Linked DNA regions of Homo sapiens. The protein of the gene in region 1 purifies or fractionates together with the protein of each later gene. This does not show direct contact. Each region holds a gene or a part of one and is shown in the gene's direction. Other genes may lie near its edges.

Region 1 (3,659 bases):
CTGTGGAGACGAGTTAGGCATAACCACTGTTATGCTGCTAGTATGTATCAGAACAAGGAACAGAGCCTGGGCCTCCCATTTTTCAGTTGATTTCTCTTTTTTACTGACAAAATCCACCATTGCTTGAAAACCATTCTAAACTCAGCCTGCTGCTTAAGACCTCTACTCTCTGAACCTAACTCATCTTTCCAGCATAAAATCTGGATAGCCAGGTAACCCTTCTGATTTAGCCAGACCTTTCTACTCCCTGTCTCATGCTGTCTCCGTGCCTCCCTTTGTGTGCCTTCTGTCCCCTCTCAGTATTTGCATCTGTTAATTCACAGTGGTACTTTTCCTTCCACACCTTCCCAAGTAAGTAAGTAAGCTTTCAGTAGTCATTGCTGTTAGTAAACTGCCAAGAACAATAGATAAAGACTAAAGGAGAGGCCTTTATATACTGTGCAGTGTACTGTGCTTTATTGCCAATTAAATTGCCATGTGCTATGCATATCATGGATTAGTAAATATCTGTTCAATAATTATAATTATGAAAAACTGCTGTTTACTGAATACCTGGTCTTACTACTATGAGGTATACTTTCAAAGAACTAAATCTTGGGTGAAGATATGTGTTCAGGGTCACACAGCTAGGAAAGAATGGAGCTGAGATTTCAGCCTAGGCCTGACTTCAGTATAACCACTGTACTGTATTTCCTCTCTTTCAGATTATAAAATGGAGAATTCCATAGTGTATTTTTACAAATTGAATGTTGAATTAGAATTCTTATTTAAGTAGAATGTTCTCTCTGAATTAGGGCCTGATTAACCGTTTTTTCCTTGATTCCTTATATTAATATAAGATTTGATGATTATGCTATTTTTATACTGAGTTTTTCTGTCTTAAATATATTTACTCACTACTAGTATATAAAGAAATAAGCTTATGTCAGGAATGGCACCTTTTAGGAATTAGTCATATTGTTGTATTATATCCGCTGGCCACCGTCTGCTGCCACAGTGATTCTCAGCCTTGGCTGCATGTTAGAATCACCTGGGACAGGGACTCTCAAACTTAAGCATGTCCCCGCATCACTAATTGCCGAGCCTCCCTCCAGAGTTTCTAGTCCAGTAGGTCCAGGATTCCTAATATGTTCCCAGGTGATGCTGGTGCTCTGGTGCATTGCCACACTCTGAGAAGCTTTACCCTAGGGAACTTTTGAAAATCTTGGTCAGGCCATACCCTAGATGAGTTAAAGCAGAATCTCCAAGTGTGAGACTCTGGGCAGCTTTTAAAGTTCCCCAGGTGATTCCAGTGAACAGCCAAGAAAAACTTGATCTTTGATTGGAAGTTCAGTTATTCCCTCTTTAGTTTATAAGGGAAATGTATGTGGTTTTTTTCTGCCCCTACTCACTCTTAATCTTTTCCCAACATTTGACCACCCACTTTTTATTGAAATTCCATTTCTATAGCTCCTGTGTCACCTCACTGTCGTCTCTGACCTCTTCAGTCACTCGTCTCTCACCTTTCATTGGCTTTTTTCTTTCTTCCTTTTTTATACTGTCCCGAATATGGACTTTTTCTAAGGTGTAGGCCCTGATCCTTTGTTCTCATTATATTCATTTTCCTAGTGAACTTATGTGTTCTTTACACCTTTAAGTTGCAACTCTGCCTGTAGGAGCAAAGCCTCGACTTCCCTTCTGATAACTGATGTCACATCTCCAACTTTGTTCAGGCATTCTCTGCTTGCACGCTCTACAGTTGTCCCTTGGTATACATGGGGGATGGTTGCAAGACATTCCCCCATACTGAAATCCACACATACTCAATTTAGCAGTCAGCTCTGTGGAACCTGTGTGTATGAAAAGTCAGCTCTGCATATTGTGCAGGTTTTGCATCTTGAGGACACTGTATTTTCAGTCCAAGTTTGGTTAGAAAAAATCCACCTATGAGTGGACCCACACATTCAAACCTGTGTTCAAGGGTCAGCTGTACTCTCTAACCCTGAATTCTGTATGTCCTCAGTGATTTATGGTCACACTTATCTAATCATAAAAGTCACCTGGTATATGCTGGGTAAACAATAGCTTTCCAGGCTCTACCCTGGAAATTATGATTCAGTAGATCTGAGATGAGATTTGGAAATCTGTATTTTTAACAAGCTCCCTGAGTGATTCTTATGTTCCAGCAAGGTTGGAAACACTGTACCATCTGAACTCATTGTAGCCTTTTATGCACTTTCTTTTTTAGTTTTCCTGTCAACGGGACCAATATCACTGATGGGGAAATGAGGCAACTTGAAAGCTAGGAGTCAAGTTCAACTGCTTTCTCCTTTATCCTCACACTGGATTATTTTGCTTTCACCTTGAGAGTCTTCCTCAGCTTCATCCTTTTCCATGCCTGAGGGCCCTCCTCCTCTTGCATCTTGATAACTGAGGTGCAGTTTGGAATAGTGGTTAAATGCTCAAGCTCTGGAGCTCTGCCGTGTTCTAGTTGGAGATCTTAAGATCTTAGGCAAGTAGCTTAACTTCTCTGTGCCTTAGTTTCCTCATCTGAAAAAATGGGGATACTATTAGTACCTATCACCTAAGTTATTATATGAAATTATACACAGAAAATGCTTAGAGTAATGCCTGGCCACCGTGAGTGGTAATAAACTGTTATTACATATTAATTAACTATTACTGAGATAGATTCTTAAGTTCTTTTCAACTTCTTTTCCCTATACACTAGTCTCCCCTTATCCTTGGGGGTTGCATTCCAAGGCCCCCAATGCCTAAAACCGAGGATAGTACTGAACCCTATTTATAATATGCACAAATTTCCTTTTCCTTCTTCACAGTTTCATGGATAGATTTGTTCTTAGAGATCCTAAGCAACCTCAGCATACATTTTTGTTTGTTTTTCTTATGAAGTCAAGAACTTTTACCTTTTCATGTAAAGAAAGCACTTAATGGCGGCTCCTTGGCATATCCAAATTGCCAGCATCACTACTCTTGTGCTTTGGGGTCATTATTAAGTAAAATAAGGGTGACATGAACACAAGCCCTGTGAGATATCCCGATGGTCGATCTGATAGCCAAGATGGCTACTAAGTAACTAATGGGCAGGCAGCACATACAGTGTGGATATGTTGAACAAAAGAATGATTCACATCCTGGGTGAGACGGTGCAAGATTTCATCGTGCTGCTCAGAAAGGCATGCAATTTAAAACATGAATTGTTTATTTCTAGAATTTTCTATTTAGTACTTTTATACCAAGGTTGACCATGGGTAACTGAAACCATGGATAAAGAGGGACTACACTAATACATTATGCATTTCGCCACCAGAGTAATCTTCCTAAGATACTGTTTCAGTATGTTGTCTCCCCTCCTTGAGCATCTTCATGATTCCAAATAACTTCCCAGATTAAGTCTAATTCTTCAGCACGGCATTCAGAGCCCTTAATCTCAGTCCTTTATACCTGCAGTATTTACCTCATGCTGTTCACCCACTTTGTGCCACAACCAGAGTACTTTATTGTCTACAGTATTCGCCATGTACATGATTCCCTTCCTGCCTTTGCTGATACTTTCCCCTTATTTGAATGTCTGTCTTTTTGTTTGCATATCTCATTCCTATCAATCATTTAAAACTCATTTTATCGATAGAAGTTCTTCTCGCATAGCTCCTGCCTTT
Region 2 (3,659 bases), on another chromosome or scaffold:
TTTATCACTTTAGTATCCCAGGTCCCCTGAGAGGGAGGTCACAGGGTTTGGAGTTTTGTTGACAAAGAAGTTCAGGATTAAATGACCATAATACAGTTTGATTCTGCAATAAAGTCAGAATTACAACCAGATACCCTCTTCCCACCCAGCTAACAGTTGTCTGCCATAGAGCTATGTGTTTACATAGAGAATATATGGGAATTTCTATATTAAACTCAAACGTGAACCAGACTTTACAGTGGACCTAAGGCACTCTCTGGACCGTCAACTGACCTCTGAGGGAGGCCACATATTTGAAAAAAAATCAGTTTTTCCAAATCACTGAGATACCTTTGCACATGAAGCAAAATTACAGTCTGTCACAGAGTTGCATGTTTACTAAACATGCCCATGGGAAAATATGTTGAATGGACTGATTCTTAGAATTCTTTGGTGTTGGAAGGGACCTTAGAGATATTCTAACCCTATAATCCTGTAAGTTTAATGAATGTGTTATACTTTAAAAAAAAAAGTTTACAGAAGAAACTTTAATAAGCCCAAGAATCACCTAGGAAGCTTACTTTTTTTTTTTTTTTTTTTTTTTTTTGAGACGGAATCTCGCTCTTTCGCCCAGGCCAGGCTGCTGTGGCGTGATCTCGGCTCACTGCAAGCTCCACCTCCCTGGTTCACGCCATTCTCCTGCCTCAGCTTCCTGAATAGCTGGGACTACAGGCACCCGCCACCACGCCCGGATAATTTTTTGTATTTTTAGTAGGGGCAGGGTTTCACCGTGTTAGCCAGGATGGTCTTGATCTCCTGACCTCGTGATCTGCCGGCCTTGGCCTCCCAAAGTGCTGGGATTACAGGCGTGAGCCACCACGCCTGGCCGGAAGCTTACTTTTAAAAACATTCTGAGGCTGGACACTATGGCTCACTCCTGTAATCCTAGCACTTTGGGAAGTGGAGGAGGGAGGATCACTTGAGCCCAGAAGTTCGAGACTAGCCTGGGCAACATGATGAAACCCCATCTCTACAAAAAAAAAAAATACAAAAATTAACTGGGCATGATGGTGAGCACCTGTGGTCCCAGTTACTGGGGAGGCTGAGGTGAAAGGATTGCTTGAGCCCGGGAGGTTGAGGCTGCACTGAGCTCTGACTGTGCCACTACACTCCGGCCTGGGTGATAGAGTGAGACCCTGTCTCAAAACAAAAAAATAAAATTTCTGAGATCATCCCCAAAAATGCTGATTCAGTAAGACTATGTTGGGGCCCAGGAATGTGTATTTTTATAAGAAACCCCACCGCCAACCCTAGGTGATTTTGAAACAAATGGTCTGAGGACTAGGCTTTGAGAAACAGTCTAGTTTCCCATTGTTTTTCATTGTTGTTTGTTTGTTTGTTTGTTTGTTTGTTTTTGAGACAGTCTCGCTCTGTTGCCCAGGCTGGAGGTGCCGTGGCGCGATCTCGACTCACGGCAACCTCCGCCTCCCAGGTTCAAGCCATTCTCCTACCTCAGCCCCTCAAGTAGCTGGGACTACAGATGCCCACCACCATGCCCAGCTAATTTTTGTTATTATCAGTAGAGATGGGGTTTCACCATGTTGGCCAGGATGATCTCCATCTCTTGACCTCGTGATCCACCTGCCTCGTCCTCCCAAAGTGCTGGGATTAGAGGCGTGAGCCACTGCTACTGGCCTTCTCATTGTCTTATAGCTGTATAAACAAAGGCCTAGAGGGATGATATGAATTGCCCATGATCAAGTGGATAGTTAGGAACAGAAAGGTAGAGATAGAACCCAAATATTTTTTTCTCACTTACGAGGCACTGTTTATTCTATCACACCATCTTGAACATGATACATAAATGTCAGTTTGATTCCATATTTTGAGTTTCAGCCCAGGGCTTGTGGACTAGTAAGAGCTCTTGAGCTCCATCTGTCAGTCAAATTCTGCAGTATATGTAAAGGACCAGCACAGAGGCATTTATCATGAGGATTGATCCAGTTGTTATGAATTTGGGGGTTTCTTTATAACACTTAACAGGACTCAACCCTATCAGGAATTTCAGTACTCAATTACTCTTTTCAATTTTACTATAGTTACAGAAAGTCAAGACTCATAAACACTTCCCTGAATCAAGCAGCAGCACTGTTTCCCAGAGAATATGACTTTCTCTCTGTTGTACATTTCAGGATCGTTCTCCAGGGCAGGGTATGATCTAGGTAATCACATGGGAAAATTGTCTCCAAGGATAAGAACCTGTATCAATGTTGTAACTAATAAAAGCCACATGGCTGGGCCAGTAGTTTTTCACCCAACTTTCCAAATACAGAATATGGGTAAAACAGTAAAACATATTTTATTTCACACAATATGGGATATTTTATAAAAACCTACAAAAGAGGCCTGAAATTGTACATTTGTTCCATTTCCATTTATCCTAGCATCAAGACCATCAATAAACTAGCTCTTCCACTGGGTAGATAACCCAGGTCTCCTGAGGGTCCCTTCATCAGCTCACTGGCAGGGTATACACTGCCTAACTCAACACAGCCATGCGAGGCTCCCACAGTGTAGGCACTACTCTTATGCAAGGCTTTAGTAACAGTTAAAGATACTCTCTGTTGCAAAACTGAGTCCCAGGTAAGTTATAAAACGTTCCAGATTACCTTTGACCTGGTTTTGCAAGGTTGCAGAAAACAAAATTTGACCTCCTTTAAACAATGTGATAAAGGAAAAATGCTTACAATAGCTTTCAAAAATATTGCATCATTAAAAGCTATAAGACTGAAGAACTTCATTACAAAACAAGTGTTGGGACCAAGGATAACCCTTGTCATCCAAACTTTTGAGATTAGATTGAGAAAAACTGATGGTACAACAATTTGATTTTCAAAGCAAGAAACATTTAGAGGGAGGAGAGGCCACCAAAAAAAAAAAAAAAAGGAGAGAGAGTCCCAACAAGGTACAAGCTAGTTTTCTCTGTGCCATGATGGGATGGAGAAATAAGATGAATTAGTTCAAGGATCTTACAGTCCAGTAAAAGAACTAAACCGCATGCACAAATGATTGTGACACCCAGTAGAATGTGCTCAGTGTGCTGGGAGGGCTACAAGTGCTGCAGGAAAACAAGCAGAGGTCAAGAGAAGGCTTTTTGGGGCACTGACTATTGAGCTGAACAAATGCAGTGGGGGAGGGGGCATTCCAGGCAAAAGGAGCACCAGAGGCAGTTCTGATCAGGTGCTTAAAACAGTGAGATGCTTCATTAAAGGATATTGCGATGTAAGAACAATGGCAGTCTGGACCTAATAATAGTCATTTTTTTAAGCTGTTTCCTGAAGGGACAGGAAATGGAAAAAATAGGGACTCAGAGAGTCCAAAGAATGGCCAACAGCAGTGGCCTCACTTCCACAGAAGGAAATATTTAATTTTCTAATGCCAACTTTAGTCCAGAATCAAGGCACAGAAATAATCTAATCTACACTCTTCCCAACTCTTTGGACTGCCCAAGGAGTAACTTAAATGAGTTGTTTCAATGCACTTTGTCTCAAAGGCTTAGAATTCTCTCATATATCTTTGAATAATTCCCTAGTAATGTCTAGCACATAGTAGGCAGGCAGTCAATAAGTGTCTGTTGGGCAGGGCACGGTGGCTCATGCCTGTAATCCCAACACTTTGGG

Evidence for each region.
Region 2: the proteins of SAAL1 (region 1) and SLC27A2 purify together in Homo sapiens (co-immunoprecipitation; 3 studies listed by BioGRID and IntAct, with this or other methods). This does not show direct contact.

The regions. Positions count from the first base shown.
Region 1 is NC_000011.10:18,092,534-18,096,192, reverse strand, and holds part of SAAL1 (protein SAAL1), read left to right. Parts: intron 1-3,659. UniProt on the Homo sapiens protein: Plays a role in promoting the proliferation of synovial fibroblasts in response to pro-inflammatory stimuli.
Region 2 is NC_000015.10:50,185,062-50,188,720, forward strand, and holds part of SLC27A2 (long-chain fatty acid transport protein 2), read left to right. Parts: intron 1-3,659. UniProt on the Homo sapiens protein: Mediates the import of long-chain fatty acids (LCFA) into the cell by facilitating their transport across cell membranes, playing an important role in hepatic fatty acid uptake.